Regions from separate parts of the Homo sapiens genome. Here region 2 is linked to region 1. The links come from fine-mapping of genetic effects on gene expression. A gene starts in region 1. The other region holds a variant in brackets. All regions are shown on one strand. Distances are from middle to middle.

Evidence for each region. PIP is the estimated chance that this variant, and not a neighbour inherited with it, causes the effect. A credible set is the group of variants that fine-mapping cannot tell apart.
Region 2: its variant is the best candidate, but not a certain one, in a credible set for the expression of GRAMD2B in tibial nerve (GTEx, PIP 0.82).

The regions. Positions count from the first base shown.
Region 1 is chr5:126,420,259-126,425,642 of GRCh38, reverse strand. It overlaps GRAMD2B (GRAM domain containing 2B), which reads right to left and starts at 2,234. Exons shown (of 14, transcript NM_023927.4): 1 at 1,954-2,234. The coding sequence starts at 2,036. RefSeq lists a silencer at 2,130-2,259.
Region 2 is chr5:126,486,781-126,492,164 of GRCh38, reverse strand. GRAMD2B (GRAM domain containing 2B) reads right to left here. Exons shown (of 14, transcript NM_023927.4): 12 at 5,188-5,292; 13 at 3,273-3,366. Among named protein-coding and RNA genes, the nearest start is that of GRAMD2B, 66 kb to the right of the region's middle. The variant T/C (reference allele first, on the strand shown) is at 2,033.

The DNA.
Region 1 (5,384 bases):
AGGTGTGCGCCATCATGCTTAACTTATTTTTTTTTGTCTGTAGAGACAGGGTCTCACTTTGTTGCCCAGGCTGGTTTTAAATTCCTGGGCTCAAGTGATCCTCCAGCCTCGGCCTCCCAAAGTGTTGGGATTATGGGCATGAGCCACAGTCCCTGCCTGGCCTGAGTCAACTTTTTCAGATGTCACACTTAAGTGAGAACATGCAGTGTTTGTTTTTCTATTCCTGGCTTATTTTGTCTAACATACGTCCTCTAGGTTCATCCATGTCACAAATGATCTTTCTTTTTAAAGGCTGAATAATATTGTGTATATATACCACATTTTCTTATCCCTTTATCCATTGATAGACACTTAGATTGATTTCGTATCTTGTGTATATAGCACATTTTCTTATCCATTCATCTGTTGATGGACACTTAGGTTGATTTCATATCTTGGCTATTGTGAGTAATGTGCAATGAACATGGGAGTGCTGCATATCACTCCTTTAAGTATAGGGCTGCTAGTATGATTGTTTGGCTATAAAAGATGTGCATGCTGACTAGTATTAGGAAGTGAGGTTGCAATGGTCTGTGTGGGTCCAGATCATGAAGGATCTTAAAATCTTGGCAGAGAAGCCTATTTTTAAGAGTAGGCCATGGAAGGCCATCATAGATTCTGGAACAGAGGAACCAGTGTACAGCATAGTGGTTCTAAGTTCATGCTGTAAAGTTAGGAGACCTGGGCTTGAATCCTGGCTGCTCTTTTATTAACTTTGTGACTCTGCCTAGCTGCTTAGCTTCTCAGAGCTTCAGTGCTTTTATCTGCAACATGGAAATAATAGCACCTGCCTCATTCTTTGTGAGAATGCATTTAAAGTATTGAGCACACTCCCTGTCACATAGTAAGCATTCTCAGTAAGTGCCAGCTACTATTATTTAGGAGGCTAAGGCTCTAGGTGATGAGGTCTACATGGGTGCAGTTACAGACGCAGGGAAATTGTGAGGAGCAAGTCATTCTAATCCTCTTAGAAGAAATGTCCATGGGGACACCCAGACTTCAACAAGACTTTGAGCCTAGTGATAATTAATGTAAGTTATGAAGTTCAAAACAGAAGTTAGACCGGGTTTCTAAGCACAAAAATTTGGCAACTTAAAATGATTTCAAAGTGGAATTATCACATCAGTATAACCTTATGATAATACATATCCCTCCTTCCTAAATTACTCATATCCTGATACCAGAACAAGAGTTTTAGAGCTCAGAAGGGTTAGTGTCTAAAATCATAGACTGAATTAGAAGTGACTTCAGTAGGCTTAGAAAATACCACTTTGTAGGAAAAAAACAACCTCTCCTCCCAAACCAATTTTACCAAAGACTGCAAAATAGATAAATATTTTAAAAGTAGAGAAGACTCAATTATAGGCTAAACTCTTTATCATACCTTGTCTGTGTGTTTAATGTGGCAATGGTCACCAAAGTCCCTTGAAGTACAGTAATATTCATTTGTGCCTCCCCCATCCCCACTCTGCTCTTGAAGTTCCAGAAGGGCAGATCCAAAATAACATTTATCCTTGTATTGCCCATCGTTATTGAACAAGTAGATACTCAATTATTTGCTGAACTAAAATGAATTTGTGAAAATGGTCATTCTAAACGAAGGGCTGTGTTGGGACTTTGAGCTTCAATGTGGTTAGGCTTATTTTCTACAAAATTATTTTCCCAACATCCAGTGAGTTTTGAATTAAGAGAATTTGTTTAAATCCTACAGTAGACTTTTCAATCAATCTAAACCATCTCCTTAACTGAATATCTAGACAGAGAGAGAGAGTGAGAGACAGAGAGAGCGCGCCACAAGATTGTCCATATAGGAGCTCCAGAAATCCGCATCCACCCAAAATGCGTCCCGGGGCAGAGAAGTTTAGGCTGCGCTCCTCCCACCTCCTTGGATGGGTCCCAGCTGAGAATACTCACTGGGCTGAGCCAAGTTTGCTCTCCCTCTTCCCGAGCACTTTCGCAGGCTTTGTGTCTTCCACATCTTGCTGTAGTTCAGTCATCGGGGCCGTGTCTGGAGGGCACCTTCAGACTTCCGCGCGCCTGGCTCTGCCCCGGCTCGTCCCGGCTTCTAGGTCCGGGTGCGCAGGCCAAGCAAGCGGCGCCGTGCCCTCCCCTGCACCCTCCGCCCAGCGCATCCAGGCCGGGCCGCGCCAAGCTCCCGGGGCCGCGGACCTGGACACGTCGGAGCGGGCGCGATTGGTCCGACCCACTGTGGAAAAGCCGAGAGGGAGGGAAGGGGAGGGTCGAAGCGAAGTGACAGCCTCTTTCCCCAACCCAGGAGGCAGAGAAGAGAAAAAGGAAACCTGTTGAACGAGTCTTTCGGGAGAGGAAGCTAATTGGCCAAGCAGGTGGAACATTTGCCTAAGAAGGCACAATCTGTTTAGCCTCCTGGTAAATTAAGCTTTTTGTTTTCTATCCCGACTGTAACAGGGGGATTTTTAGAGGGCAGCCGGCTCTAGATACCGGAAATGGAGACGTCTGAGTGGGACGCCCTGTCACACAAATGCGCTGTGTGGGCTGGCCTATGCCCCATCCTAAATTATTCAAACAGGATATTGCTTCATTGAGGGACTGCCTCTTCTGCTTAAACAATAGGTCTGCTCAATTTTTTATGTGGGAATAACAAAGGTAATAAGTAGTTGCCTTTGGTGGTGTTTTGGTTAACCCTTCATCGTTCTGGGGTGGGGGGGGTGGTTAGAGGGGCAAAGAAGAAGCAACCATCAAAATCTTCAAATATTGGGTTATGACTGTTCTCATCAAAATCAAAATTGGTGTTTGATAATTCCCAAGCCGTCTCTTTGTTGCCCATAGTTGTGCAAGTACCTTATTTACTATGCACTCAACCAGTACCGTGAATGCCTCTTCTTCCCACCTTTTGGTGACATTTTGACTTGCCTGTTCTAAGGTTTTGTATTGGAAGCATTCACTCATTCATTCATTGAACAAACTTTTGAGAGCTACAAAGTTCCAGGCATTGTTCTCAATCAGGGGTGTCCAATCTTTTGGCTTCCCTGGGTCACATTGGAAGAAGACGAACTGTCTTGGGCCACACATAAAATATACTAACACTAAGGATAGATGATGAGCTTTAAAAAAGGTCTGTGCAGGGGCCAGGCACGGTGGCTTACGCCTGTAATCCCAGCAGTTTGGGAGGCCGAGGCGGGTGGATCATTTGAGGTCAGGAGTTCGAGACTAGCATGGCCAACCTAGTGAAACCCCATCTCTACTAAAAATACAAAAATTAGCTGGGTGAGGTGGCGCAGGCGCTTGTAATCCCAGCTATTTGGGAGGCTGAGGCAGGAGAATCACTTGAGCCTGGGAGATGGAGGTTGTGGTGGGCCAAGATGCACCACTGCACTCCAGTCTGGGCAACAGAGTGAGACCCTGTCTCAAAAAAAAAAAAAAAATCCGTGCATAAATGTCACCATGTTATAAGACAGTTTATGAATTTGTATTGGGCTATATTCACAGCTGTTCTGGGCTGCAGGTTGGGCAAGCTTGTATAAACATTGACTTGTTATAGCAAATGACATTTGTATTGGTGGTTTTCTAATTTGCAATGGAGTAGTTGACAATTAGAATAATTAATATAAACGTTATTATTGGAAGCCTGACTTGACTTCAAAACAATTACAAGTGGCAACAGTAGAGCATGACATGCCTGGGAAAAAACGACTAACTATGTTCTGGGGCTGCAAGTCCTTCATTTTTCTCTTAAAATAAAGTTTAGATTTAAGAGTATTACAAAGACTATACAACCATAGTATGTACATGTATGTATGTAGTTTGTAGGGTGTATGTGTGTGTAAAACACCTAACCTTCTAAATAACTTCAAACATTTTGGAGGTGCAAGTTCTTTCCAAAGTTTTCTTATTCCTTCTCTTTTTACATATATATCATTAGGCTGAGAGAACAAAAGCATCTTTTTGTAGCCTGCTTGCTCCAAAATTGATGTTTGTGACATTTGAAAAATAAGTAAAAGAAAAAGCTTACATAAATTCCAGAAGAGTTGGCTTAGTCAGGCCTCTCTCTCTTTTTCTTTCCTGACCACTGACTGCTTTGCTATAGGAGCTGTGCTAGGTGGGATGGGGAAAACTCTGGGTGACCTGAAAGCTTGAAGGCTGTCTCCTTGGTGCCCATAGTTGCCTCTTCCTGGGGACATTCCTGATGCCTTCACCTCTAGATCCCCACCCTCCTCAGAATAGGGATAGGTTTGGAACAGAGATGAGGTTGTCAATTTCCCAAACTCTGGATGAGGACTCTCAGATCTCAGGTGCACTCCAACTTCTCATTACAGAGCTCAGATCAGACTGACTTTTCCCCGCTAAGTAATTTATTTATTGTGGTAAAATATACATAACATTACTATTTATCATTTTAATAAGTGTATAATTCAGTGGCATTCAACACTTTCACAATGTTATTTAACTATCACCACTTATCTGTACCCAAAACTTTTTTTTATCATCCTTGGCATAAACTCCCATTAAATACATTAAACAATAACTCTTTCTTTCTCACCTCCTCCCAGCCTCTGGTAGCCTCTAGTTTACTTTCTGTCTCTATAAATTTGTCTGTTTTAGGTACCTCACATTAGTGGAATCATACAATATTTTTCCTTTTGTGTCTGGCTTGTTTCACTCAGTGTAATGTTTTCAAGGTCAATCCATGTCATAGCATATATCCAAATTTCATTTTTTTTTGGCTGGATGATATTCCATTGCATGTATATACCACATTTGGGTTGCCCGTTTATCTGTTGATGGACCCTTGGGTTGTTTCTAGCTTTTGTCTATTGTGAATGATGCTGCTATGAACATGGGTGTGCAAATGTTTGTCTGAGTCCCTGATTTCATTTCTTTTGGATATATACCTAGGAGTAGACTTGCTGGGTCATATGGTAGTCTATGTTTACCCTTTTGAGAAATCATGGTCAGCCCTCTTTTAATGCATGAGTAAGGGCAAGTATTCAAAGCAGTCTTAGCATGGGCTTATGGCTCAAATAAAGAGCACTCAGTTACCCTAAAATAGCTTAAAGTTCTTTAGTGCATGGTATAAGGACTTCCAATGGTGTGGTTTTAAGTGAGAAGGAGCAGGTGAGGTTGAAGTGGAAGGCAGGGCTGGTAGGGAAAATATCAGTCTTTTCCTAGAGTGGAAGAATTAGAAAGGAGCAAGTAAGCTACAATATTTTACCTACTGATGTTTGCTTACGTTTAAAAGGCATTGTTAAACAACTGCCTAATTTGTTTATTCTTGGGGCTATTCTACAGTAATATATGGAATATAGTATTCAAGAGGCACGGCAGATAAACAATAAAGGAAATGTCATTGCCATGTGACAAAATAG
Region 2 (5,384 bases), 67 kb before region 1:
AGGTTGTGGATTTCACAGGGACAGAGACCAACCACGTCAGATGTTTGGATCTTAAGACGGGTCCGATGTTGGACATCAAAAATGTTCTCAGTAAATGACCGTTGAATAAAGGAACTTGTAAGAATTCATAGAAGCCGGGTGCTGTGGCTTGTGCCTGTAATCCCAGCACTTTGGGAGGATGAAGTGGGCAGATCACGAGGTCAGGAGTTCCAGACCAGCCTGGCCAACATGGTGAAACTCTGTCTCTACTAAAAAATATACAAATTAGCTGGGTGTGGTGGCAGATGCCTGTAATCCCAGCTACTTGGGAGGCTGAGGCAGGAGAATTGCTTGAACCTGGAAGGTGGGGGTTGCAGTGAGCCAAGATTGCGGCACTGCACTCCAGCCTGGGTGACAGAGCAAGACTCTGTCTTGGGAAAAAAAACAAAGAAGGAAAAAAAAAAGAATTCAGAGCAAGGAATTCTCAACAACCAGCCCTGTGATGGGAGTAGAAACCTTGCAGACGAAAAGAAAGAACATATTGTTTTTTAGAGGAACAGTCTGTGATGTCCTATGGGTGTTCTCAGGTGAGTGAGGAGGAAGGGGATCTGATATGTAAGTGCCAGCAAAGGCATGCCTGCTCCTGAGCCATACAACACCACACAAAGACAGGCTTTACACATGAAACCAAGGGCCAGGGAGCTGAAGTAGCAGGATGAGTTATGTGGGTAGTAAGCAGTGGAGCAGGGATAAGAACAAAGGCCTGACTCCAACATTTATGCTCTTTCTACTATACTGTTCCACCATTAATTCCACTTCCAGAACTAAGAAAATAAGTGTTTACTTCAGTTCCCGTAAGAGACATTGCTTTCTTCCCCAACTTTCTTGCTTTGTTTCTTCCTCATGTATCCCTCAGGACCAAAGATAAATGGAAAAACAGGAGTGGGAGGTAGAAAAAGGAATAAAACAAAGAACTGACATCCCAAATCCACAAAACACACCTACGATGACACACACACAAAACCCAAAATTAAAACAAAGGAGAGAATTAAGCAATTTACAGAGGAAAACCCAAATGGCCAGTAAATATATGAGATGTTCAGCCTCAGTAATAATTAGGAAAATACAAGCAAAAACCACAATGAGATCCAGCTTCACACTATCTGACTGGTAGTGGGAAGGCTGAATGGACTAGGATGGTACCTGTGGGAAGAAACTTTGAGGAGACATTTGAAGACAGACTTCACTGGATTTGCCAACTAGTCAACCAGTGGCAGGTGGAAAGAGGGAGTTAAAAATTATTCTTAGATTTCCAATGAGGATGACTGAAAGAGCAGTGATGCCATGAACAGAAATAGGGAAGTTATAAGCAGAGAAAGATCATGAGGCTTAGACATCACCGGCCCCCGAAGGTGAGAAGAAGGAATTGCTGGTATGGAGTATAAGACCTTCAACAGCATGGAGCTGCTATTTCACCGGCAGGCTGTGCTGCGCTAGTGCCCAGCTGCCTCTGAGGAAAGGTGCAGATGAATCAAAAAGAGCACGGGTGTGGCCTGGTACCTCTTTTTTAATACTTAGATTCTTTTGAGCAATGTGTGCAACTTCTAACTTTTTAGAACATCAACACGCGCATTTTGACCCCAAATCCACTTTTTACTGAATCAGTTTCTGCTTTGAGACAAAGGTAGTCTCCACTGGTGCTCCTGTAAACCTCCCCGGCCTCCCTGCTAAGCTGTCTGAACCCTGCACAAGACCTGAGGCTGTTTGCCTGCTGTGAACAAGCTCTTCTGTTTTCAGTTCCCTGGTTACAGAATGTGGTGTCCCGGCCAGGCCCAGCGGGAGAGTGGGAAGAAACACAAAAGAAGGCGGCAGGATCCCATGTGTTTCTAATCCAAAGAATATCACTGGTATGTAAGAGTGAACAAAATTGAAAATTAATACCACTTCATTCTCTGGGTTGCATGAAAGCCAAACATTTGTAAGCATTTCATTAAAAAAAATCGTTTATCTTCAATTCTCAGAAACTAATGTTTTAGAAAGGAAGAAAGCTAAC[T/C]CATACCTTCTCTAGGTTGATTCTCGATGTAAAGAACTTTCTACATTTGCCCATAAATAGAATGATTTAATATGAATTCTCTGACCTGACTTGGTTTAGAACATAAGTTTGGAAACTCCTTTGCTCTTAATACTTTAGCTGTTAAATACTAACTAACACTGAGTGTAGGAAAACAAAGATAATTTTATTCATTTGTATTTAATATGAAATTTTACTAATTTGTATTTAATATGAAGAAATATGTCTTCCCAAGTAAGCATAACTGTACTATGATGTAAAGCTACCAGATACTGGGCGTTTGTGACAGCAGTTGTAATTGAACACTGAATTCTCTCTAAGCCTTTCCTGAAGGATTAGGGTAAAAACAAAGTAGTTATCAGATAAAGGAGAAGAAAATAAGACATGTAAATCAGGTTTATTTCTGGGATATTTCTGGCATGCCTATCTTCTTCTCCAGCTCACCCTCCTGCTGCCTTCTAAGAATGCCACAGGCTAAGGACAGTTTTGCCCTAGCGTTGTTTGGACTGTAGATACTTTGAGGTAAAGGTACATCTGTGGCCTTATCAACAAAGCCTAAAGCTGAATTCTGAGGAACAGTAAAGCAGAGAGCTTCTAAGCACAACTTTGCAGTCAGACAGGCCTGGTTCAGGTTCCAGATCTGCTGACTTTATTTATGTATTTTTCTTCTAATGCTCTCTCAGCAGACTCACGTCTGCTGCCTTTCTAGGTGTGTCACCTTCAGCAAGCTAATTTGAAACTCTTGATTCTTCCCCTATCAGATAGGGAACAATGACGTCTATCTTCCATGGTTCTAATAGGACTTACATGCAATATTTTACCTATGGGAACAGTCAGCCTTGGTGGAGTTGGGGCTGTACTTTCTGGCCAAGCCAGTGGTTGGTCTCCAGTTCACTCCCTACTATGTCCCTACATTAAGCTCCGATGTCAGTAGTCACTTACCACTGGGCCCTGTGCTATTAAGTAATATGTCTAATCAAGGAGGAAGAACAAAAGACCTACAAGACTATGTATTTCAAGGAAAATGAGATTAAGACCTATTTCTTTGTGGAAATAAAAAATATTCTTCCACATTTACTATAAAAAGCCCCTAGCCAGGGTTGATCATGTAGGTTTATTGCGGCACACTAACGGCGTCTGAGTGTGTAATCCCTGACCTGACCTAGGGCAACCAACAGGCACTACTGTGACTGCCCCCATACACAGGAAAGAAATAGGTCACCTTTTCTAATTTCACTATGTTAGCTGTAAGCTCTTGACAGAGAACCTCCACATTGAATTGTACTTGTGACCTCAGGCCAGATGGTGCTGCCTGTCTGTAAGAAAAAAGAGAAAAATTATTATGGGCAGGGATGACAAGGAAAGAAGTGGAATGAACACATTTAAAATTTATTTGAACAGAAAATTGGTTTATAATAGAAGAGAATGAACATTTCATTTGTTAATATTAGACAAAGCCCTGCAGTAATCCGCAACTCCAGGCTAGATGTTTAGGGAACTAATTCTTAAAAGCTCAGCGGGAAATCTCTTAAGCTATTTTTGTTTAAGTGGATATGGTGTGTTTCGGCTTCTAAACAAAAATCAGGCAATTATTTTCAAGCACGTGGTTTCTTAGAACCCTTTTATTAACCCCTAATATCCTTTCTGTCTCCACCAGAGCATAAACTTACAAGAATTATTGTACTTTTGAGCTATTTATACTAGAACTTTACAAGTTTAGGAATGTCCTTATCTAGTTAATCAAATGTCCCTTGAAACACGAGACTTTTGTAGTTTCTTCTTTGAGATTTATCATACAACTATAATTGCCCTTGTCTCATAATCAGGCGTGAGCCACTGTGCCTGGCCTGGAGTCACTTCTTATCTCTATGCCAATATTAACTTTTTGAACAAGATGGGAGAAACTAAGGGCAGAGTATGAATCCATACCAAACTGTTTATTAGGCTTTTGTATTTTATTAGTTCAAGTGTATATTTATGGGTCAAAAATAACCTGTATGCCTGCATACATGTAAGCCACCTAAAGGTAATTCCTATGGAGTAAAGAAAGGTCCTAGAATGGTATAACACAGTATTTCTCAAAGTATAGAGCTCAGACCATTGCCATCAGCACCACCTGGGAACTTGCTGGAAATGCAAATTCTCAGGCCTCATCCCAGACCTACTATATCAGGCACTCTGGAGATGAGCCCTGAAATCTGTTTAAACAATTCTAGATAATTCTGATGCAAATTAAAATTTGAGAGCCACTGGTAGACTGAGGAGCCCATGGTCTTTGTAGTTATATAGACCTGCAGCTGAATCTGCAAACTGTAAGACATTAAACTAATTATTACTCTGAGTCTCAGTTTCTTCATCTGTAAAATGGGAACAGTTCTATTCTAAGGTTATGGTGAAAATATAATGAGGAAAAATCATCTGTATTTGTATGTGTATGTATCCATTCTAATAGAGCCTTCAGCATGTGGTGAATACTCTGTCAGGAAATATCTCTACTTCAAAAACTTGGGCTAAATGTACACTTTCTAACATGGCATAAATTATTTCACTTTTTAGGCAATGTGTCAAAAGCTTCTTGTAAATAGGTTTAAAGAAAAGAGCTCTATGTCTGAAAAGGTTTAATTAGGCCAGGCATGTTAAAAAAAAGACTGATGGAAAATCTTCACAGACACATTCAATTAATTACTAGTCACATTGATCTTGACAGTGGTCAAGAGTTTTGCAAATAAGTGAGTTAATATAAAAAGTTATACATGATAAAATGTGCTGAGTTTCTTGAATTGCTTCTTTCTCTGAGTGTCTTGATTTATTGCCATTTTACTAAGGTAAACTTGTGTAGTTTAATAAATGGGGCAAGGTCACAACTGCATCTTAGCATATTCGAGCAAGATAATGTAAAATTAGGCTTGTTTCTTGCCTTATTACTAGCAACATTACCACAACTCCAAAATAGTACAGGGTTAGGTCATTCATTTCTAGACCCTCCTACCTTTTTACTTTCCACATATACACTTAACAAAATGTCACATACAGAATGTATCTCCAATTAATGTTTACTAAGAAGGATGCTAAGTTCAGGTCAATTATTATATTAAGCAGAATGGCAAGCAGATGACAGCTAGAGGCAATCGTCTTACTCAGTATTATGGGTGTCCACAATGGAGGTTAGTAACCCCAGCTGCTCCTCCAGAGTATTAATTCTGTATCTCATGTAGAAGGTCGAGATGATTAGTGCACAGACACTGGAAACGGATGAAAGAGAAACTTTCGTTAGGTTAACGGCCAGGATCTGATGTTCATAAAACAACTCAGTGCCAATGTGGTACACCCGAGG